Linked DNA regions of Homo sapiens. The protein of the gene in region 2 purifies or fractionates together with the protein of the main gene of each other region. This does not show direct contact. Each region holds a gene or a part of one and is shown on either strand. Other genes may lie near its edges. The genes, in order: TNPO3, OCIAD1, COX6C, USP34, EXOC3, SDHB and PPP4R3A.

What was found.
Region 1: the proteins of OCIAD1 (region 2) and TNPO3 purify together in Homo sapiens (co-immunoprecipitation; 2 studies listed by BioGRID and IntAct, with this or other methods). This does not show direct contact.
Region 3: the proteins of OCIAD1 (region 2) and COX6C purify together in Homo sapiens (affinity purification with mass spectrometry; 2 studies listed by BioGRID and IntAct, with this or other methods). This does not show direct contact.
Region 4: the proteins of OCIAD1 (region 2) and USP34 purify together in Homo sapiens (co-immunoprecipitation; 2 studies listed by BioGRID and IntAct, with this or other methods). This does not show direct contact.
Region 5: the proteins of OCIAD1 (region 2) and EXOC3 purify together in Homo sapiens (co-immunoprecipitation; 2 studies listed by BioGRID and IntAct, with this or other methods). This does not show direct contact.
Region 6: the proteins of OCIAD1 (region 2) and SDHB purify together in Homo sapiens (affinity purification with western blotting; 2 studies listed by BioGRID, with this or other methods). This does not show direct contact.
Region 7: the proteins of OCIAD1 (region 2) and PPP4R3A purify together in Homo sapiens (co-immunoprecipitation; 2 studies listed by BioGRID and IntAct, with this or other methods). This does not show direct contact.

What each region holds. Positions count from the first base shown.
Region 1 is NC_000007.14:128,971,612-128,975,111, forward strand, and holds part of TNPO3 (transportin-3), read right to left. Parts: intron 3,352-3,500; coding exon 3,257-3,351; intron 972-3,256; coding exon 815-971; intron 1-814. UniProt on the Homo sapiens protein: Importin, which transports target proteins into the nucleus. Specifically mediates the nuclear import of splicing factor serine/arginine (SR) proteins, such as RBM4, SFRS1 and SFRS2, by recognizing phosphorylated SR domains.
Region 2 is NC_000004.12:48,837,588-48,841,087, reverse strand, and holds part of OCIAD1 (OCIA domain-containing protein 1), read right to left. Parts: intron 1-3,500. UniProt on the Homo sapiens protein: Maintains stem cell potency. Increases STAT3 phosphorylation and controls ERK phosphorylation. May act as a scaffold, increasing STAT3 recruitment onto endosomes. Involved in integrin-mediated cancer cell adhesion and colony formation in ovarian cancer.
Region 3 is NC_000008.11:99,883,708-99,887,207, forward strand, and holds part of COX6C (cytochrome c oxidase subunit 6C), read right to left. Parts: intron 1-3,500. UniProt on the Homo sapiens protein: Component of the cytochrome c oxidase, the last enzyme in the mitochondrial electron transport chain which drives oxidative phosphorylation.
Region 4 is NC_000002.12:61,212,588-61,216,087, forward strand, and holds part of USP34 (ubiquitin carboxyl-terminal hydrolase 34), read right to left. Parts: intron 2,108-3,500; coding exon 1,473-2,107; intron 1-1,472. UniProt on the Homo sapiens protein: Ubiquitin hydrolase that can remove conjugated ubiquitin from AXIN1 and AXIN2, thereby acting as a regulator of Wnt signaling pathway.
Region 5 is NC_000005.10:446,176-449,675, reverse strand, and holds part of EXOC3 (exocyst complex component 3), read right to left. Parts: 5' UTR 3,471-3,500; coding exon 3,327-3,470; intron 2,856-3,326; exon of another isoform or gene 2,468-2,855; intron 2,338-2,467; exon of another isoform or gene 2,284-2,337; intron 2,144-2,283; coding exon 1,924-2,143; intron 1-1,923. UniProt on the Homo sapiens protein: Component of the exocyst complex involved in the docking of exocytic vesicles with fusion sites on the plasma membrane.
Region 6 is NC_000001.11:17,018,222-17,020,627, forward strand, and holds the end of SDHB (succinate dehydrogenase [ubiquinone] iron-sulfur subunit, mitochondrial isoform 1 precursor), read right to left. Parts: intron 738-2,406; coding exon 660-737; 3' UTR 501-659; downstream 1-500. UniProt on the Homo sapiens protein: Iron-sulfur protein (IP) subunit of the succinate dehydrogenase complex (mitochondrial respiratory chain complex II), responsible for transferring electrons from succinate to ubiquinone (coenzyme Q).
Region 7 is NC_000014.9:91,475,811-91,479,310, reverse strand, and holds part of PPP4R3A (serine/threonine-protein phosphatase 4 regulatory subunit 3A), read left to right. Parts: intron 1-2,324; coding exon 2,325-2,402; intron 2,403-2,786; coding exon 2,787-2,903; intron 2,904-3,344; coding exon 3,345-3,500. UniProt on the Homo sapiens protein: Regulatory subunit of serine/threonine-protein phosphatase 4. May regulate the activity of PPP4C at centrosomal microtubule organizing centers.

The DNA.
Region 1 (3,500 bases), on a different chromosome or scaffold from region 2:
TCTACAATTCTACTCCACATCTAATCAAACCTACCTTCGAAATTCCTGTGAAGCACTTTACTACTCCCACTGCTTAGTTGTCTACTAACAAACTTAGTACTATTCTGACTTGCTCTGATCTTGGCTTAGAGGCAGTATGACTATCTGCCTCTCTAATCCATCAAAATTCTACCTCTAATTCATGGCTTCATTTAAATCCCTCCCCTTCCATAAAGTTATTCCAACTCTTTTTGGTCTAGAGCTTTCCCTCGTCTGATCTCATACCAATCATGACTTTTATCACTCATCTGACAATCAAATACTGGAGGCCAAGGTGGGAGGATCACTTGAGGCCAGGAGTTCAAGACCAACCTGGGCAACATGGTGAAATGCCATCTCTACAAAAAATATAAAAACTAGCCAGGCATGGTGTTGAATGTCTGTAGTCCTGGCTACTCAGTAGCTGAGGATCCCTTGAGATTCACATCACTGTACTCCAGCCTAGGCGACAGAGCAAGACCCTGTTTCAAAAACAAATGAAAAACACCAAACACTGGCATCTTGTTGTTACTTAACTCTTTAAACTTGTTTCTCTCTTCAACTAGACACCAAATGATTTGGGAGCATGAACAGTTTTAGACTGCTTTATATAGCCTAAAGCACCCAGCACAAGTGTCTTAGTTGATATTTTGGCTAGTGAATGATCCACTATGATATATGTCTACCAATATAGATCAAGTAAGGAAATACTGGGATGCTGGTTTTCTCCTAAGGAATGACAAAGAGATAGGAGATAAAAGCTGTTAAGTAGAAATGGTATCATTTTTATACTTACATCATTGGCTACCCCTGTATGAATGAGGTCTCGTAGAAACCTCATGACACTACAATTGGCATCCCGGTGGTCCAGGGTAGTAGAGGCAATGGCCCACTGTAAGATAGGGATGACCACTTGGCTCCGCAGCAAGGTGACAGGGCTACGCTGAATAAACCTGGTGTGGAAAGTGAGACTAGGTATAAATGACAAGATTAGGCTATAAAAGCAGCCAGGGTAAAAGGGCAAAACTATGAAGACAGTAAAAAAGATCAGTGGTTGGTGGGGGGTTTCAGGGAAGAAGGGATGAATAGACAGAACATAGAGGATTTTTTTTGGCAGTGAAAGTATTCTGTATGATACTATAACAGTGGATACATGTCATTACACATTTGTCAAAACCCACAGAATGTACACCAAGAGTGAAGCCTAATGTAAACTATGGACTTTGGGTGATAATGATGTGTTCATATAGGGTCACTGTTTGTATTACTCTGGTGGGGGATGCTAATAGAGGGGAAGGCTGTGTGTGTTAGGAGGGAGGGGTATATGGGAGCAACTTTTCACTCAAATTTGCAGTGAACCTAAAGTTGCTCTTTAAAAAAAAAGGACCATATCTTAAGATTAGTATATTAAAAGACGTGTCACCACATCCTATTTCCAACTAAGATTTTATAAATCAAGAAAGACCAGTCAAAAGGACCTACAAGTAGAAACTCTCCTAGGTTAAAAAGTCCTAAAGATGCTAGAACAGCATTTCCCAAACTAAAGTTCACAGAATTCCAGTTCCCAGGATGTCAACAGGAATCCCTCAAAGAAAAGGTTGTGTGTTCAGGTAAGCTTGGGAAATGCTGCTGGATTTTGAAAGTAGTTTTGCTTGTTTATTTTTTCCTTTAAACTACTATCAGGTTTCTAAGTTCCTTTAATATACAGGGAGAATCTCTTCAGAAAAAGGTACAGTATACTCCAAACTTGTTTCATCATTTGTATAAAGAACATTTTTAGGGACTAGTTTTCCAAGGAATACATACCCTAAGAAAACAGAGGGTGTGCCGGGCGTGGTGGCTCAGGCCTGTAATCCCAGCACTTTGGGAGGCCGAGGAGGGTGGATCACGAGGTCAGGAGATCGAGACCATCCTGGCTAACACAGTGAAACCCCGTCTCTACTAAAAATACAAAAAATTAGCTGGGTGTGGTGGCGGGTGCCTGTAGTCCCAGCTACTCGGGAGGCTGAGGCAGGAGAATGGCGTGAACCCAGGAGGCAGAGCTTGCAGTGAGCCAAGATCACGCCACTGCACTCCAGCCTGGGCGACAGAGCGAGACTCCGTCTCAAAAAAAAAAAAAAAAAAAAAAAAAAAGAAAACAGAGGGTGACAGCCCATCCAACAATTCTATCAACTGAAAAAAAAAAAAAAAGAAAAGGAAAAAAAAAGGGTTTTTCTAACCTATCCAAAAACTAACAAAAAAAAAGGGTTCAATATTCAATCCTGCCAGGTACGGTGGCTCACGCCTGTAATCCCAGGACTTTGGGAGGCCAAGGTGGGCGGATCACCTGAGGCCAGGAGTTTGAGACCAGCCTGATCAACATGGCAAAACCCCGTCTCTACTAAAAATACAAAAATTAGCTGGGCATGGTGGTGGGCACCTGTAATCCCAACTACTCGGGAGGCTGAGGTAGGAGAATCACTTGAACCCAGGAGGCAGAGGTTGCAGTGAGCCGAGATCATGCCATTGCACTCCAGCCTGGGCAACAGAGTGAGAGTCCATCTCAAAAAAGAAAAAAGAAAAAAAATCAATCCTAAGATGAAACAATCAAGTCAACATTACTTTGCATTTGTAAATGATATAACAGTTGGGCTTTTGTTGTTTCGAAAATAATGATTTTTCTTTTTTTTTTTTTTTTAATGCTGATATGGTAACAGTTTTGGTTCAAATTCCTTAGTTAGGGACTAAGGAATTCAAGCAGAAGTTTGGCAATCATATTATCAGTGCTACTGATAAAGTAGGCTGTGAGTAGAGCTGAGAAATACAGTATGAGATAACTGCTAAGGCATCTTAAAATCCCAAACATTCTTTATTCCGAAACTGATTATATCTAAAGGATGCTAAGCTTCTCAAAGAGAAGGTTGAGGTGAAACATGAAATCGCAACAGCACGAACAGTTAAAACCTACAGAGGACTGTAGAGATGATCTAGTCAAGTGTTTTGCCAGGCACACTGCATTGTCTTGTGTGTGAGCCCTCCTTCCTGGCAGGAACTCAGCTCCTTTATCCCTTGCTTCCCGCAATACTCTGCGTCACTGCTGGGGATATATCAGCTTGCAATTTACCTTTGGGTTATGAATCATTAATCTACTTACTCCAGTGACTTCATTTTACAAGAATAAAACAACCAAGGGTCAGATGGCAAGACTAAGCAGTGATAGGATGAGCAATTAAGAAATGGGCTCTTCAGAAGGATTTACCTGGTGGCTAGCCGGAACAGGTCATCTACAGTGTCAGGGTGATTCTGGAGACCATTCTGCTGTTCTAGGAGCTGAAAGGTGGGGATGCACAGTGCCTAAAACAAAACAGTGATTTTAAAAGAAATGCTTTTTCAGAAATGCCACAGCATTCAGACTTGCCAAATATTTATTACAATAAGTACAAAAGGAACAAAGAAGAAAAGCACAGCTGGGAAAAGAAAAAGATTGTAATGAGAATCTGATC
Region 2 (3,500 bases):
CATGTAATTTCACACGTAATGAAATATTCTTTTCCTTTGATTTCTTAACCATTTTATCTTATTTTATGTTTTTAGACAAAGTCTCACTCTATCACCAAGGCTGGAATGCAGTGGTACAATCTCATCTCACTGCAGCCTCAACCTGCCGGCTCAGATGATCCTCCTGCTTCAGCCTCCCAAGTGGTTGGGACTACAGGCATGCACCGCCATGCCTGGCTAATTTTTTGTCTTTTTTCTTTTTTTTTTTTTTTTTTGTAGAGATGAGGTTTCGCCAAGTTGCCCAGGCTGGTCTCGATCTCCTTGGTTCAAGTAATCAGCCCACCTCAGCCTCCCAAAGTGCTGGGATTACAGGCGTGAGCCACTGCACCCAGCCTCTTAACCATTTAAAAATGTAAAAACAATTCTTAGCTCATGCATACAAAAACAGATTTGGTCCATGGGCTAGTTTGTTCAACTCTGGTCTAAACCATATATGGACAATTTAAGAACCAAAGTAATTAAGACATTTGAATTATTACAGATTTCATGATTAAAATCCATCACTTTGGAATAGGGCATTAACTTTGCCATCACACACAAATTGCACAAACGCTAAGGTCTGAATTCATGCTATCCTACTTACTAACAGATTTTACCTTTGCTGGAAATATGGTTTCTTTAATGTTGGCTAGTTAGAATGCCTTCATGCATTATCATTTATCATTTAAGGTTTTGCAAAGGACAAATCCCTTTTAATTACAGCACCAGTACAATTTGCAATCATTTTTCTCCAGCTTGACTCAAGGATTGCAACATGAAGCACTGAAGAATCATATAAGAATAAAAGGCAATGAGTTAGCTGGCCATTTCTACAATGGATAATGCTTTCCCCATTTAATGCAGAGTAATAGTCTGTTCGAGGAGATTCTAGTACTAGTTCTGCCATTCACCACAATGTCTTTGCATAGCTTCTTCTCATGCTATAAAGGAATAATGGATTAGACCTAAGGTCTCATTCCAACTCAGGTATTCTACTTTATGTCACAGAAAAAGACAATGGTAAGACTGAAAGAGGCTTCAGAGATTATCTAGTCCTCATTCCAATCTGAGTACACTAATATCCAGAAAAGACAAGTCATTTGCTCAAAGCAACACAGCTGGTTAGTTTGTGGTAATGCTGAGATCAGAACCCAAGTCTCCTGACTCCCTAGTCAGTGGCCTTTTCCACTACAGTATGTAATATCTATTTTGTTAAATAATCTGTCTCTATAGGCAAATCAGTAATACTGCTGACCAAAACCTAGTGCACATTATTACCACAGTCCCAAACTATATTCAATATATACAAGAATCCCTACAATTATTTGAACTCTTCTCCCCTCACAGTAACAAAAAGCTACTCTATATTCCTAACTGTAGTCAATAAAAATTTTTATTTCATTAATCATAATAACACTAATAGCTATTTAATAAAGATAGCCAACACTTAATTAAATTGCATTAATCCCTATAATAATTTCATGAGCTAGGCAGTTATCCCCATTTTATAGATAAGAAAAGTATAGCACAGACCTCAGGAACTTGTCCAAAATCTCACAGCTACTGTGTGTGGAGCTGGGATTTGAATCCAGCCAATCAGGCCTCAGAGTCCATACTCTTTTTTTTTTTTTTTTGAGATGAAGTCTCGCTTTGTCACCCAGGCTGGAGTGCAATGTCACAATCCTGACTCAATGCAACCTCTGCCTCCCGAGTTCAAGCCATTCTCCTGCCTCAGCCTCCCAAGAAGCTGGGACTACAGGCATGTGCCACCACACCTGGCTAATTTTTGTATTTTTAGTAGAGACAGGGTTTCACCATGTTAGCCAGGCTGGTCTTGAACTCTTGACCTCAAGTGATCCACCCACCTCGGCCTCTCAAAATGCTGGGATTACAGGTGTGAGCCACCATGCCTGGCCCATACTCTTATCACTCTTATACTGTATCATTTGAAAACTAGTAGTACACATATATGAAATATTATTCATAGACTCCAGCTGATACAAATATGAACTGATACATCTTTTTAGTAATTCTGGAGTTTGAGAACTATTTTAACATGAATATGCAATAAACTGACCCTATATGCACAGGGTCTTCACTACCTGTGTGTTTGGGCACAGACATAGTGATTTTAGGTCAGTGCATAGGGTCACGATTTTAAGCACCTAGAAATAAGATGCCTTCATAGTTATATTTCAGATTAATGGAATGTAGGTCAGTATAGAAACATAGTTATCTTAAGGAAAGAGAATGGTCCCTAGATCAACAAGTCTAATTTTAGAAGAGGATAAGTATTTTAACAGACCTAAAAAATGTATAAAAAATTACCTTAGTAAGTGCTTTTTTATAAATTCGTAAATGCTTTTATCACCTTTTTCTAATCCAAGGTGATACTCTCCAAAGTAACAGATGCCATTATTTGTTTACATAAATGTCACATACAGCATAGACTATCTAATTCGAAAGTACAAATGTTAAAGTACAAAATTTCCTATGTATGATTATCATCCTTCTGATAATTATACGTTGAACTTCCTATCACCTGGTTACAACCAAGCTTCTACATTTCAATGTTTGATGCTATAATATGCAACAACACCTTGGTTATCTGTTTTGAGAGTGAAATGCTACCTATTAATACAGTAATTTTTTGGCTGCTGTAATTTCTCAGTAATGTAGATATGGTATAAAATTAACAAGCTGTCTTTCAGCCTGTCCTTATCACATGCTTTTTGTCTTTTTTTTTTTTTTTGAGATGGAGTCTCGCTCTGTCGCCCAGGCTGGAGTGCAGTGGCACGATCTTGGCTTGCTGCAACCTCTGCCTCCCGGGTTCAAGCGATTCTCCTGTCTCAGCCTCTCGAGTAGCTGGAATTACAGGCACCTGCCACCATGCTCAGCTAATTTTTGTATTCTTAGTAGAGACGGGGTTTCACCATATAGGTCAGGCTGGTCTCGAACTCCTGACCTCAGGTGATCTGCCTGCCTCAGCCTCCCAAAGTGCTGGGATTACAGGTGTGAGCCACCAAGCCCAGCCGCTTTTTGTCTTTTCAACCTGTGATTTATCTGTTTTAATGCACAGAAATCACTTAGCTTTGTACTGTTCATATACCACATGTCCCACTATTAAGAGTCTGGTATACACGGGCATCCTGACATTGTTCACTACCCTTTAATGTACTTTTGGCATAAACCTGTCACAGCTATTTAGATTGTTAAACACCTGCAGCAGCATACATTTATCAGCCAGAAATAAATCTGGACACCTTAGCATCTATTTAACCGTTAGCCCAACACTACAATAATCCCAAATCCCCTCTATCACACTTGCCTTTTTCTTAATCCTGTGTCATCAAGACTTAAAAATAGATCATTTTATCCTATCTACTCTATATAATCTTCAAAGATTTAAAAAAAAAAAAAAAAAAAAGAACTGTTGCTGGAGTATACAGCCAAGTTCTCTAAGAAATTCTTCCCATTCTGGC
Region 3 (3,500 bases), on a different chromosome or scaffold from region 2:
GACAAACACACGAGAAAACTATAGGCCAAATCCTTTAACACAGATGCAAAAATCGTCAACAAAACACTAGCAAACCAGATTTGACATCGCATTAAAAGAATCATGTACTATGATTAAGTGGGATTTATCCCTAGGATGCAAGGATAGTTCAACATATGCAAATCAATAGATGTGACATACCACACTGACAGAATGAAGGATAAAAAACACATCTCAAAAAATGCAGAAAAAGTACTTGACAAAATTCAACATCCTTTCATGATCAAAACTATCAACAGAAGGAATGTACTTCAACCCAACAATGGCCAAAAAGGACAAGTCTAGTATACTGAACATGGAAAACGTGAAAGCTTTTCCTCTAATACCTAGAACCAGACAAGGATGCCCGCTCTTGCCACTTCTATTCATTGTAGTACTGGAAGTCCTAGCCAGAGCAATGAGGCAAGAAGGAATAAGCAACATCCAAAAAGGAAAGGAGTAAGTAAAACTATCTGTTTACAGATCATATAATCTTACCTCCAGCAAACCCTAAAGATTTCTAACACACAAGTGTCAGAATACATGAATTCTACTAAGTTGGAGGATACAAAAATCAGCTCTTTCTACACACCAACAATGAAGGAAATAAAGGAATGCCTAATAAAGGAAATTAAGAAAATAATTCTATTTATAATAGCACCAAAAATAATACTTAGGAATGTATTTAATCAGGAATATGAAAGACTTAAACACTGACCTAGATGAAACAGATATATACCTGTATACTGCTAAAAAAATTAGCAAATCTCATTCATGCAATCCCCATGGTAACCACAAAGAAAATACAGAATATACACATAAGGAAGTAAGAAGGAAACTGAAACATGTCACTATAAAATAAAGGAAAAGTACGGAAAGAAATGTGTGTCCTTGGACACATTGTTTTGATTATAGTAGTCTCCTTTTATCCAAGGTGATATGTTTCAAGACCCTTCCAGTGAATTACTGAAACTATGGATGGTACCAAACCCTATACAGCTACGTTTTTTCCTATATATACACATACCTATAATAAAGCTTAACTCATAAATTAGGCATAGTAAGAGAGTAGCAACACTAAAAGAAATTAAAGATGCAAACTACTGCTAAAAGAAATTAAAGATACAAATAAGAGGAAAGACATCCTGTGTTCATGGATTGGAATACTTAATATTGTTACGATGTCCATACTACCAAAGTAATCTACAGATTTAATGCAATCCCTATCAAAATCCCAATGGCATTTTTACAGAAATAGAAAAATCCATCCTAAAATTCACAGACTCTTAAGGAACCACAAATAGCTAGAGCACCCTCCGGGTGGGGTGAAAGAAAGAACAAAGCTAGAGGACTCACACTTACTGATTTTAAAGCATACTACAAAGCTACAGTGTAGCAGTCATCCCTTATTTGTGGTTTAACCTTCCACCGCTTTAGTTCTACCCACAGTCAACTGTGGTTCAAAAACAGGTGAGTACAGTACAGCAAGATATTGAGAGATCACATTCACCTTTTATTACTATACACTACAATTGTTCTATTTTGTTATTGTTGCTCATCTCTTACTATGTCTAATTTATGAGTTAAACGTCATCATAGGTATGTACGTACACGAAAAACAACATAATATATACAGGGTTTGGTACTATCTGTGGTTTCAAGAATCCACTAGAGGGGTCTTGAAACATATCTTAGATAAAACGGACTACTGTAATCAAAACAGTGTAGTACTGCCCCGAAGACAGACATACAGACTAAAGAAATAGCCCAGAAATAAACTCTCGCATTTAGAGTCAAATGATTTCACCAAGGTACCAAGACCACTCCATGGAAGAGGACAATCTTAAATGATTTCGGGAAAACTGGATACCACATGTAAAAGAATACAGTTGGATCTTTACACCCTACACAAAAATTCAAGTGAATCAAAGATCTAAACATAAGAGCTAAAACTATAAAAGTCTTAGAAGAACACATAAAAAAGACTTCATGACATTGGATTTGGCAATGATTTATTGAATATGACACTAAAAGCACACAGAACAAAAATAAAAATAAATTCGACATCAAAATTTCTGTGCATCAAGGGACACAACAGAGTGAAAAGGCAACCTATGAAATGGGAGAAAATATTTACAAATCATATCTGATAAGGGGTTAATATCCAGAATATATACAGAACAACTCAACCAATAAACAAAAAACCAAATTTGAAAATGAGCAGAACTGAATAAACATTTCTCCAAAGATAACATACAAATGGCCAATAAGTACATGAAAAGATGCTCAAGAACACAAATAATCAGGGAAATGCAAATCAAAACCACAATGATACCACCTCATACCTATTAGGATGGCTACTATCAAAAAATACCAAAATTATGCCAGGCACAGTGGCTCACGCCTGTAATCCCAACACTTTGGGAGGCCAAGGTGGACGGATCGCCTGAGCCCAGGAATTCAAGCACAGCCCAGGTAATATGGTGAAACCCTGTCTCTACTAAAAATAAAGAAGTTAGCCAGGTGTGGTGGCACATGCCTATAGTGCCAGCTTCTTGGGAGGCTGAGGCAGGAAGATCCCTTGAGCCTGGGAGGTTGAGGCTGCAGTGAGCCATGATCGCACTACAGCACTACGGCCTGGGTGACAGAGGGAGACCCTGTTAAAAAAAAAATTAACAAGTGTTGGGGAGGATGGAAAGAGTGTAAAATGGTGCAGCCACTATGGAAAAGGGTATGGCAGTTTCTTAAGAAATTAAAAATCATATGATCCAGGAATTCCACTTTTGAATATACCCCAAAAGAATTGATAGCAAGGCCTTGAAGGAATATTTGCATGCCTAGGTTCACAGCATCACTCACAACAATCAAAAAGTGGAAGCAACCCAAGCATCTACTGATGGATGAATGGATAACAATGTGACACAACTAAAATAGATCATTCAGCTTTAAAAAGAAAGGAAATTCTGACACATGCTGTAACATGGATGAACCTTGAGTACACTACGCTAAGTGAAATAAGCCAGTCACAAGAAAACAAATACTGTGTGATTCTACTTATGAGATGCCTGGGGTAGCCAAATTCTTAGAAAGTAACACAGTGGCTGCCAGGGTCTGAGTGGAGGTGTGAATGGGTTGCTTAATGGATATAGGGTTTCAATTCTGTAAGATGACGAGTTCTGGAGACTGGTTGCACAACAATGTGAATGAACTTAACACTACTAAACTGTACAATTAAAAATGGTTAAGATGGCAAATTTTATATTATAGATGCTCCTTAACTTACCATCAGGTTACATTCTGATAAAACCATCATAAGTTTAAAATATCTTAAGTTGAAAATGCATTTAATACACCTAACTTACATCATAGCTTAGCCTTCCCTACCTTAAATGTGCTCAGAACACTTATGTTAGCCTACAGCTGAAGAAAATCATCTAACACAAAGCCTAGCTTATAATAAAACACTGAGTATCTCACACAAC
Region 4 (3,500 bases), on a different chromosome or scaffold from region 2:
ATTTTATAGACTCATATGCACATGTCAGGAGAGGACTGCTCTTCTAACACATACTTGTCAATGAACTGAAACCCCCAGCTTCTTATTTTTCAAAGCAAAAAACTGACTTAAGTACCATTTTCATGAAAATTTCTAATAGATAAGGACATTCTACAATAAAAGACATTACATTTCACTGATGTCAAGGGCAATAAATAACATGGAGGGATAAATTCTAACTCATCTAGTACTTGTCAAAGTATATTTAATTCTGGACATCACATCTAGTAACTAGATCAAATATTATTTATGTGAATATGATAGAGACAAATTTACTGAAACTTAATAAATCCTATCCCGACCCCTTTGAAGTCAGAAAGATTGATATTTTGTATTCTTATGGCATTGGTTTTCAATTTCTTGGTACTTGTACACTCACTCTCTTTCCTGCATTGTAGGGATTCTGATTTTTTCTTTTGAGACAGAGTCTTGCTTTGTTGCCCAGGGTGCAGTACAATGTCTCAATGCAGCCTCAACCTCCTGGGCTCAAGCGATCCTCCCACCTCAGCCTCCCAAGCAGCTGCGACTATAGGTGCACACCACTACTCCCAGCTAATTTTGTATTTTTTGTAGAGATGGAGTTTTGCCATGTTGCCCAGGCTGGTCTTGAACTGCTGGGCTCGAGTGATCCGCCTCTGCCTCCAAAGTGCTGAAATTACAGGTGTGAGCCACTATGCCGGCCTGGGATTCTAATTTTCTCTGACTAGAAATTAGGTTATTCTTCCCAGGTGTGAGATTCTATACAACTCATTACACCATCTAGAAAAAAAAAGACCGTCTATAAAGGACGGTCTGTCTTTAAAGTACAGTTTACAACAGAGAATAAGAGGCAACAGTGAAAAGTTATTAACCAGGTTTGACAGCTTTACATCGAGGGGAGGAAACTTAATATAAAACCTACAAGTAAGTGTGCAGAGTAAAAGGGACCCAATTTAGACTGCATATATATGTATCTCGATTGATCTCTTAAGCATTTCATTTGTTTGGATGCAGCTTGAGAAAAAATACTGCGGAATACTACTAGTTTTAGATATAAAATTGTCTAGCTCACAGTTTACCACAGCATGTAGATTTTGCTAAGTATCTGATTTTTAAATAGCAAAGTACTCAATTCCTTAAAACTGTACCATGAAGCTGGCTTTTTTCATTAGGCACACATGAAGAATACATTTACAAAACCACAAATTAAAAAACAGGTAAGTTTTACTGGATATGCAACTTTAACTTCACCCTAAGAAAAGTTATCTACACAGTTATCAATTTTATAACAACACAGCATTTTATATATGTATTTAAGAAAACAAATACACATTAAGTTCTTAAGAAAGAATGGTGAGACTATTCTATATTCTGCCACCACTTCCCACCAGGGGAAAAACAGGTATTTCCAATCTATTTGAGGATACAGATAAAAGAGTATCAATTTTACTCACTCCAGGGTATTGGCTGGCATGTGGTGTAAGATTCTTAAAGGCCCACTGGATGTTCTGGTGAGAAGCCAGTTGTCGTGTGAATGCAGGAGACTGCTCACAGCAGAGCCTCAGAATGCCATAGTACGCTGGCAGCATCCCACGGTTAAAAAGCACCACATCCTGATCATCATGGTCAGCAAGGATGTAATTGAAGGCAATGTTCTTGGTTACCACTGGGTTCTGAACAATAAGGCGGATATTCTCTGGACAGTCAGCACAGACATTGTACCAAAATGAAAGCAAAGCCTGTTTATTGTGATTTGTAGCTATTGCTGGCTCAGAAAGTTTAGGCTGGAAAAGGTTCCACAAATCCATGAAATATGTGGAAAACATCAGCTTCTCAGTTTTGGAAATTAAACAGTAAGTCATAAAGCTAAAATAGGGCACTAGCTTTGTAGTGCCATGAACAGCAGCATCAACATAAAGTTTGGCTCTTGAGAGCAAACCAAGGAGCACGTTGTAGACCTGATGTAGGACTACTGTTGTGTCTGGACTGAGTGGAAGGTCACGGGTTGGGATGTGCAAAGACCTTGTTGACCGGAACATCTGACGGAATGAATTGCTTGGTATAAGGGACACCAGAAGATAAGCTGCAGCTATAAAATGTAAAACAAAACTGTCAGATCCTTGTAAGATATAAAATAGACTGAACAGCAGTCATTAATCACAAAGCCACTGTTCCCTTTAATAATTAAAATGAATAAAAAGGGACATGAACATCTCTTTTAGTATCTTTCTGCTTTCCCCTTGGCCCCACAAAAAGATCCCAAGAGGTGATAAAAATAGATACCTTCTATTCTGCCATTGTTATTTTTGAAGTGGCAATAATTTTTAAACCACTTTTCTTTAGCTTGCCTAAGATGCAGAATTTTCCCACTTTATCTTTTATTTCTTCTCAGGAAGTAGTATGATTTAACAGAGGGAACCCAGCATTTGCAGTCAGAAGACCTACCAAAAGGTACCTGAGGAGGTCAAATCATTCAATGTTCTACAGTCTTAGTTTTCTTCTTAATTGAAAAATAATGATAATTTACTTTGTAATAACATACAGATATGGTAAAATATACTTGTTATAAAGAAAGAAATAGATATACATAAAAGTTCAATATATAAGATTACATATATGCTAATTATAGAACATTAACTTTGGAAAATCTTTAAAAGTCTTCTAAGGCTAACCTTACACCAAAGGAAAGAACTGGGTGTTAAATTGTAACCAGATAATATATATTTAAGTTATAAAGAAAGAATGAGATATACATAAAAGTCCTATTTGATTACATATATGCTAATTACAGAACATTAACTTTGGAAAATCTTTAGAAGTCTTTTAAGGCTAAACTTACACCCAAGGAAAGAACTTGGTGTTAAACTTATTAAGCCTATGTTATAATGCTGAGGAGTTAGTGACTTATTAGTTGCGCTAACCTGTAAAAGCAGTTACTATCAACAAAGCATTGACCTAGGTGCTGTATAAACTTCTCATTTAATCCTCACAATGACCCTGGATGGAGGTAACAGTGCTCTGGAAAATCTGAATCTTGGAGAAGCAAAGACCAAGGTCACACAGATAAAGAGGTGGAGGCTAGATTTTGCCTTGAGAAACAATGATGATGATAATGATAATGGTAAAACAATAATAGTAATAACTATAATAAGAATTGTGAGCCTTTACCAAATGTATACTATTTGACGTCATAACTTTATGTGGCAGGCATTGCATTTATTATCCCCACTTTCACTCAGGCTTACAACAATGGGACTATCTCAGCTTACACAGCTAGTGGCCAGAGCTGGGATTCAAATCCAGCCAATCAGATTCACAGGCTAATAATGCTCCTAACATTCACTATGGAACCTCCTCAAGACTCTCTAATGTCTGAGTTTGGGTTCTTTTCAGGACAACCATTATTTGTCTCCCCCTATTCTAACTATAACTTGATAATTTCCATTGTATTGTCAAAGCAAACAAAGTTAGGGTTTCTAAAA
Region 5 (3,500 bases), on a different chromosome or scaffold from region 2:
ATGTGGTCCATCCATACAATGGAATATTATTCAGCCTTAAAAGTGAAGGAAATTCTACAATACCACAGCATAGAAGACCCCTGAGGACATCATGCTGAGTGAAATAAGCATGTCACAGAAAGACAGATAATGTGTGATGCCACTTCTATGAGGTCTTCAGAGTCATCCAATTCACAGAGACAGAAGGCAGAATGGTGGTGACCAGGAGCTGGGGCAGAGGGTGCGAAGTCAGTGTTTAATGGGTACAGATTTTCATGTCTGCAAGATGAAAAGAGTTCTGAAGACGGATGTGGCAATGGTTGCACAACAATATGAATGTTCTTAATAGTCCCCAACTGTACACTTAAAAATGGTTAAGACGGCAAACTGTACATATGCATTTTAGAAGAAGAAAAAATGGGGGAGGGGAGCTGTGTACACAGCATTGCTGAGTTATAGGCAATGAGACAAGTCTGAAGGCAACCAAACCAATCTTCTCAATGAAAATTTATCCGTAACAAAAAACATGCATACCACGCAGGCTCATTTGTTCACCAAGGAAAGGAAATTATTTTCAACTGCTGTGGATAAACTAATTCCAGTAATGCACCTTTTTGGTCATCAGGCATTAGTTTAAAAGACCGGAAGGAAATGTAGCCAGCCAATACGAAATAAGAGGAAATTAACTAGAAAGCTGCCAGCTGAGCATCACCAAGGAGACTCCGTCGAGAGGACTTTATTCCTGTTCCAGGCGGCCCACAGTCACCAAGAAGAGCTGCTTTCTGAGTTGGCAGCACAGTGGCGTTCGTGTTGGGCATGCACAAAGAGACACGGACTGCAGCCACACATGTGACCCTACGGATCATGCCCTGGAAGAAGGGCACACACAAAGCAACGGGACAAGGTGCTCGGCAATGCTGCAGCCGCAAGCACGAGAGGAGGGCAGAGAGGACAGGGTGGACGGGACACGGATTACCAAGGTGCGCTGTGGGCAGCTGGGGAGAACCGCGCCAATTCACACGTGGCCTCAGGAGCCGAGCAGCGTCACAGATGATGCAGCACAGCCACTGTGAAGGGTGAGCTGGGGCACGTGACGGCTGGGGATGGGGAAGTGTCATACAGACATCAGGGCAGAGACGTCTGGTAGAGGAACAGGAAGAACTTGCCAAGAGGCCAGAGACAGGAACAAAGAAAGGGAAGGAATCAGACCCTGCCAAGGCTTCTGAGTTGGGGACTGGAAGGATGCTGCTGACCTTGACACAGAGCGGGGACCAAGGGGAGGGATGAGGCTGTGGAAGCAGCTCCTGTCACAGCAAGCAGGAGGAGACTGTGAACACAAATGCTGGGAGCCACCACCCAGGGCCAGCTGGCACCGTTCAGGGACAGGTTACAGGGCCCTTGGCATCCTTCTAACTGAGGCATTCAGGGAGAAGACTGAAAGGGTCACTCCCCCACGGCGCTCAGCCCCGCCTCTGCCCTGGCCTGTGCACACACGCTTCTCCTCCTGCCTGGGAGCTGCTGCTCGCCTCAACCCTTCTGCTCTGGGATCTGCTTGCTCTGTCCCATGCACAGGGTGGCTTCTCCTGCAGCTCCTTTTAAGCATGGGCCACGGCGTCTTCATTCTTCTGCACTCACAGAGTCTAACAGCCACATCGCAAGCAAGGGAACGACACTCAGCCAGGGAATCCCTCCACACTGCATTTGCTGGGCAGCCCGCTTCTGGGCCTCTGTCCTGACACTGAACTACAAGCCTTCTCCTAGCCTTTACATGCTCAGCTGATCACTTCCATCCACGTTCAAAAAAAGACGCTGAGCAGACAAGAATCACACTTACCGTCTACAGGTCTACAGTGCGGGCTGCAAAGCACACTGCACACAGAGCACTCAGTGAGTCATGCAAAGACAGCGTGAGTGGGGGCAAGTGCCTCGGCGTCTGGCTGGTACCTGAGAAGATGTTCTTGAGGTTCTCCACGGCTGCGGCGAGCTGGCTGTGCTGCACCACGGCGTCTTTGACGTCCTTGAGGCTCTCAATGGTGTTGATGCTCTGCCTCCAGTCCTTGCTGACGTCTGCCAGCGACTGCTGGATGTCTTTGACGTCATTCAGGGCGTTGTGGAGCTGGCTGAGGCCTGTGCGCACCCCGTCCAACTGTGACTGGATGGCGGCCTAAAGAGAGACGCCACACGGGTGAGCAGAGCCAATGATAGCCATGCGCTGCCTCCTGAAGAACAAATCTTCCCCAGGAGGGTCAAGTTCAGGAAAGAGCCACTGAGTAGCAGGAAACAGTCAATACCCAGAAAAGAAAATAAAATCAACAAGGATTTAATTGATTCACAGTGTACCTTTTTCTTCATTGCTGCCTGGGAACAGAACAATGATGCATTTTAAAGCCTTGATGAGAAAAGGTCAGGACACTCCTCATCTAGCCTCACACCTGGTGATCCTGGACACTACCACGGGTCTGCCCTGGGCCGTGGCCTGCTACGGTACCTTCAGAAGGATGTCACCCATGCTCTCCCAGGCATCCTAGGTTCCTAAAAGGTCTTGTCTAGGCAGAGAGAACGGTCAGGACTTCACTGGCTTGGGGTGGGGGAGTTCCTGCTGTTCAGCCAGCACCACACTTGGCCCCAGGACGGCTGACCCACAGGACAGAATCGGCACCTGAGCTTCAGATCCGCTCTCTGTCAAATGTGAGTTAAAACAATCTGAACAAAATGCCCTCTAGTGGTGCTCTGTAGAAGAGCTTTAAATAAGACTACTTCTCCTTCCTCCAGTATTGTTTAAAAACTTAATAGACACTTTCAGGGTGTTGTTTTTGTTTCTGTGTTTTTTTTTTCTTTTTGAGACAGAGTCTCACTCTGTTGCCCAGGCTGGAATGCAATGGCACCATCTCGGCTCACCGCAACCTCTGCCTCCTGGGTTCAAGCGATTCTCTTGCCTCAGCCTCCCAAGTAGCTGGGATTACAGGCGTCAACCATCATGCCTGGCTAATTTTTGTATTTTCATAGAGACAGGGTTTCACCATGTTGACCAGGCTGGTCTTGAACTCCTGACCTCAGGTGATCCGCCTGCCTCGGCCTCCCCGAGGTGCTGGGATTACAGGCATGAGTCACCGCACCCGGCCTCAGGGTGTTTAAAAGCTTGTTCCTTTGGTGTTTTCACCATTCCCACTGTCTTCTAAGCAAAGCTACTGAGTGGTAATACACTGCTGAAAGTAACTGCTCAAGAAAGTCCAGCTCTGCCTCCTTGCACATTACCATAAAGGCTAGTTTAGCAAAATCATCATGGTGATGTCAAGCAAGAACCTGAAGCCCAAGACAGATCCTGGGAGTGGGGCAGGTGGCCTCACCTTCAATCTGGCCTCCACGGAGGCCTTCTTCCGCGCTTCTCTCCTGCGATACTGCTCCACCTTGTCCAGCTGGTCCGGGCGCTGGAGCATCCCAGCAACCCTTTGCACTGCTGTCGCAACGGCCTCCCGGTCTGTCTCCTTCATGGTGAAAAAGCTGGTGGAATCCTCACACTG
Region 6 (2,406 bases), on a different chromosome or scaffold from region 2:
GTGAGAGGCCCCACGAGGTCATTTGTGGAACTAACTGGATTCACAACTGACCAGGGTCATTGCTCTGTGCTGGAGGAATCTCAAACCTGGCCTCACCGACGTATCCAAAGACTTACCAAGATTTGGTTTTCAGTAATTCTGGTACTGAAAACTATAGAAACTGGGAAGATACAGAACACTAACACTAACTGAGTGTTCAGAATAAGTGCCAGGCATTCTCATACCAGATGAATGAAGTAGGCACAATTATGGATCCCATCTTACAGATGGGCGAATGGAGCAGCAAAGAGGTGAAGGAACTTGTCCAAGGTTGTCTAGCTGGTGAGTGGCAAAGCTGGGAACAAGCTGCAGGCCCTGCTGATGTCAGTTCCACGGCTCATCACCTCCTTCCAGCTAGGGTACCCCCACCCCCGCTCAGCTCTGAAGCCCTGTCCATCTCTCCAAGGACAAGGACTCCTGGCACCTTCACATTCCCCTGCGGCAAGTAAAGGAACAGGTTCTTTTTTTTTTGTTAATAAAGTAGAATAACATTTATTTCTTAAAATTTTTATTATACATGCTGTATTCATGGAAAACCAAGATCTTTAAAGGAACTCAAATTAGATATAAATTATGTTCAGCTCTGAGCTGGTTATAAATCATGTTTAGCATGGAAACAGTTAAACTGAAGCTTTCTTCTCCTTATAGGTTGCCATCATTTTCTTGATCTCTGCAATAGCTTTCCCTGGATTCAGACCCTTGAAAAAAGAGAAAAGAATCAATAACAAATGATAACTGAAACTGAAAGGGAAAACCCACAATCTTGGGTGAAACTCCTTCCTCAGCTGGTTCAGTGTCCAAGCAAGGTGAATGCAAATCAAGTCCCTCAAAACCATAGGGGTTGGGCTAAGGGCTCTCTTCTGTCTACCTTTTTTAACATTTGAAGATGGTCAGCTCCCTCTGGCAAGAGCTCTGCCACGTTGAATTCCTTCTTGTGTGGCTCACTCTAACAGGTAAACAGGCCCAGGGCAGAGGTGCACTCTCTGACTGCTCAAAGACACTCAGGGTAGTGTCTCTTCTAGGACTACAGGCCAATGTCAAAATCAGCCAGACATCTCTAAATCTTTTACATCATCATTATTAAATAGGCAGCAGCAGAAATCAGCATATACCAGCTCTCAAAAGTATGTGGAAGAAACTACCCTCTCTATTAACCCTTTGTAAAACCATGATGATTTCAACTGGCCAATACCATTGGTATTAGCTGCAGTTTGCCCCTACAGCTGTTAACATCTGCTTTGCAGGAGGCACAATAATTAAACCCACTGAATGCCAGCTTCATTGAAGTAGAAAGTAGGAAGTACTTTACCAAGTACTTGCTTTTACCAAGCAAGTACTTGGTAAAATGAGACAAGTACTCATCTGACGTTAGTGAAGGTTCCCCTCATTTTAGAAGGATAAGTCTACCCCCCTAAAAAAGTGTTGTGGAAAGAAAGAAGAAAAGGAAAGAAAGAAAAGAGATCTTGAGAGAAGAAGAGAAAGAAAAAATATATATTTTTTTGACAGGGTCTTGCTCTGTCATCCAGGCTGAAGTGTGATCATAGTTCACTGTGGCCTGGAACACCTGGCTCAAGTGATCCTCCGGCCTCAGCCTCTCAAGTAACTGAAACTACAGGTGCGTGCCACCACACCTGGCTAATTAAAAAAAATTTTGTTTGTAGAGATGGGATCTCACTATGTTGTCCAGGCTGGTCAAAAAGACACTCTTCATATACCAACATGGGATAATCTCCAAAATATAGTGGGTGAAAAAATACAGATAAATGTGATATAAGAAAGACAGAAGAGGACACATATGCATTTGTGTGCAGCATAAAACACCTCTGAAGTTCACACAAGAATCTGACTTCTAGGGAGGTGGCTGGGTGGAGTGGGAGGGAGAATTTTCACTGTATATCCTTCTGAATCTGGATCTACCTGTGTATTTCCGGTCCCCACAGGGTCAGTAAGGGTGTTTAGACTTAGAAGGTTGGTACATACCCAATCCATGCAGGAAGAAAGAGCACTGGATGGGGAGGCAGACGGCCTAACTCTAGTCCTACCTTCCCACTGACCTGACAGTGATCTGGGGCGAGTCACTCCCCTCCCCACCTGGGGCTCAATTTCCCCATCTGTATAAGGGGATTAAACTTGATGGTTTTCAAGTCCCTTCCAGTTTCATGATCGGCCTATGTCTATGTCTCAGTCCCAACTTCCAGCCCTGTTTTACAGAAGGGAGGGCAAGGCACAGAGAACCTGTTCTTGGCTGTCTCAGTTGTCTGCTGCACCCATCCCCTCCATGCACAGGTTTGTGACCAGGAATGCACCTTAGAGTCACTCGCAGAGCTTCTGAAGAAACACACAGCCAGGCCCCACCACTGAAGATGC
Region 7 (3,500 bases), on a different chromosome or scaffold from region 2:
CACACACACACACACACGTTGTTTTTTATTCTTTGATGCCTGTGGTATTGTAAGAATAATAGGTCTTTGGGAGACTGAGGTGGGTGGATCACTTGAGGTCGGGAGTTCGAGACCAGCCTGACCAACATGGCAAAACCTCGTCTCTACTAAAACTACAAAAATTAGCCAGGCGTGATGGTGGACACCTGTAATCCCAGCTGCTCAGGAGAATGAGGCAGGAGAATCGCTTGAATCCAGGAGGCAGAGGCACATGCCTGTAATCCCAGTTACTCCAGAGGCTGAGACAGGAGAATCATTTGCACCTGGTAGGCAGAGGTTGCATTGAGCCAAGGTCGCACCGCTGCAGATAAGTGTAATATGACTTGGAAGATCTTTTAAGACTTTACCTCAGGTGTATAAGTAAAATTTATTTGAAACCTGAATTTGTTAAGTATAGAAAGGAAGACAATAAATGTAGTAAGAGCTGCCTGGTAGCACACATTACATATAAAGCAGTATGTTTAATCATGTCTGTTCCTGTTTAGAAAATTTTGTATTTCTAAAATATTAGCCAGTGATAGGCAAAAAAAGGAAAAGTATGAACTAAAATACTGAGTTCTCCTGATCCTTTTCTTTAGCTCCATATGGTTCTGTTTTTGTTATGTGGGGATTTGTCACTTCTGTGTTTTCTTGGTCTTCATACATGTAAAATGCCAGTTTTATTCATTAAGTATGAATAATTTCAAGTTGTTAAATCTTTGCTTCCCTGTAATGTGCTTTGTAAAATACTGGCTGCCAATATGTCTGTTTCTCTTGATGCTGGACACTTCTATCCAAAGTGCTGCTGTGAAGGCTGTAGCATTTTACAAATGTTTTGGCAAGAAGTGATTGAGGTACAGTTTAATGCAGGTTCCTGCCCACTTTGTATAGCCCCATGCACACAAAATAAATATCACACCCTCTTAACATTGACTGCTTCCTTTGTAGTACCATAAACATTCTTATTTTCTCTATTTCTGTACCCCCAACTGCAGCAGTTCAGAGAATGTCTTTTTTAACCATTTGATACCCATTTGGTAGAATATAGTATATTGGAGATGTGTCTTGAAATTGGATGCCATTTGGGTAGCAAACATGGTCAAGATCATATTAATGAGGTATGACCTATTTGTTCATTTTAGAAAAAGTAAAGGTGAGAATAACCAAACTAACTTAGTGCCACAGAAGATTTTTCTGGAGCACTCACAACAGTGAATGTGGAGCCAGTAATCTAGTGGGAGCTTGTATATACATCCATGTGTATGTGTATTTAGAGTGAGGCATGTCTAGGGCTTAAGTGGTATTGAATCTACTTCCACTAGCTGAGGTAGTAATTAAAATCTTGGTCGAGCATGGTGGTTCATGTGCGTAATCCCAGCACTTCAGGAGGCCCAGGCCAGTGGATTGCTTGAGGCCACGAGTTCAAGACCAGACTGGCCAACATGACAAAACCCCATCTCTGCTACAAGTACAAAAATTAGCTGGGTGTAGTGGTGTGTGCCTGTAGTCCCAGCTGCTAAGGAGACTGAGACAGGAGAATTGCTTTAACCTGGGAGGCGGAGGTTGCAGTGAGCCGAGATGGCACCACTGTGCTCTACCTGGGTGACAGAGCAAGACTCTGTCTCAAAAAGCAAAACAAAACAAAAGCCAAGATCTTGATGAAAAAATAGTGATGAGAAACATTGACCGGACAATCATGAAGGCTCTGCCACCTTAATTGGGCTTGGGTAAATTTTAAAATCCAAGTCTCAATTATAAAATGAGGAAGTAAAACAAAAAGTTCTAAATTTTGCTTTTTAAATAATTGAGTCATTCTCTGTATCTTTAAAACACTAAAGTAGCTTTGTCTTCATTTTCATTCTCATTTGAGAGGTTGTAGAACTACCTTTTAAAAGTTAATAAGGTTATAAAACCTATGAAAGTGAGGGGTCAGCAAGTGTTGGTCCTGCTATTTTTGTAAGTAATATTTTATTGAAATACAGCCATATCCATTCATTTCCAGTTGTCTGTGACTACTTTCATATTACTGGAGCAGGGTTGAGTACTCGTAGTAGAGATCACATGGGCCGCAAAGCTCAAAATATTTACTACCTGGCCTTTATATAGGCTTAGAAAATAGAGCCTTGACAAAATTTTATACTTTAATAGTGTGGTTTTTCCTTCTGTTAAAAAAAAAAAAAAAGACAGCATTGCCAATACCACCTTTCCTTTTTATAGTTATTGCTGTGTATATTAAAGCATTCCTGAAATTATATTTTAGGACAATCTTAGCATTAACATAATTGCATTTGTCCTTTGTTTCACAGGAAGATGAAAAATTTCTGACAGATTTGTTTGCACAACTAACAGATGAAGCAACAGATGAGGAAAAAAGACAGGAATTGGTAAGAAATTAGATACTATGAAAGGCATAAAAATAAAACAACTGGCCGGGCTTGGTGGCTCACGCCTGTAAATCCCAGCACTTTGGGAGGCCGAGGTGGGTGGATCACGAGGTCAGAAGTTTGAGACCAGCCTGGCGAACATGGCGAAACCCCATCTCTACTAAAAAGTACAAAAATTAGCCAAGCATGGTGGCGGGCACCTGTAATCCTAGCTACTCAGAAGGCTGAGGCAGGAGAATCGCTTGAACTCGGGAGGTGGAGGTTGCAGTGAGCCAAGATCGTGCCATTGCACTCCAGCGTCGGCAACAAGAGCAAGACTCCGTCTCAATAAATAAATAAATAAAATAAACTTTTTATATCACTTATCCTTTTTTCTAATTTCAGGTTAACTTTTTAAAAGAATTTTGTGCGTTTTCCCAAACGCTACAGCCTCAAAACAGAGATGCTTTTTTCAAGACTTTGTCAAACATGGGCATATTACCAGCTTTAGAAGTCATCCTTGTAAGTTTTGTGTCTCCTCATTTTTAATTACCATTTTTTAATCCCAAAATTAATATTTTTAATGCTACATGCAAATATTCTATTATAGCCAATATTTGAAATTAGCTGCGTAGTTCATTAAGTTAAAGAAGCTGTAAAATTCCAATATTAGACAGTTTTCACACAGTATTGAAAGAATGCAGTAAAGGAATTTCCCATAATTTAATGATAGTTTGTCAGCTTTGCAGCTTATTAGCTGAAATGTTAAAATAGGCAAACAAATAAATGATTTAGAAAGTATAATTTTATCCGTACAATAAGAGTTTTATATGCAGAAGAATTTCTTTGACCTTTCTTTTACATTGAAGTTTTTTCATATGTTTTGTTAGGTTTGGATATTTACATAGCTATAGGTTCCGTATTTTTATAAATACAGGAAAAATAAATGTTTTTTGTCTGCAGGGCATGGATGATACACAGGTGCGAAGTGCTGCTACTGATATATTCTCATACTTGGTTGAATATAATCCATCCATGGTACGAGAGTTTGTCATGCAGGAGGCACAACAGAATGATGATGTAAGTAAGAAGTTAACAGAGCAAAAAATAACCAGCAAG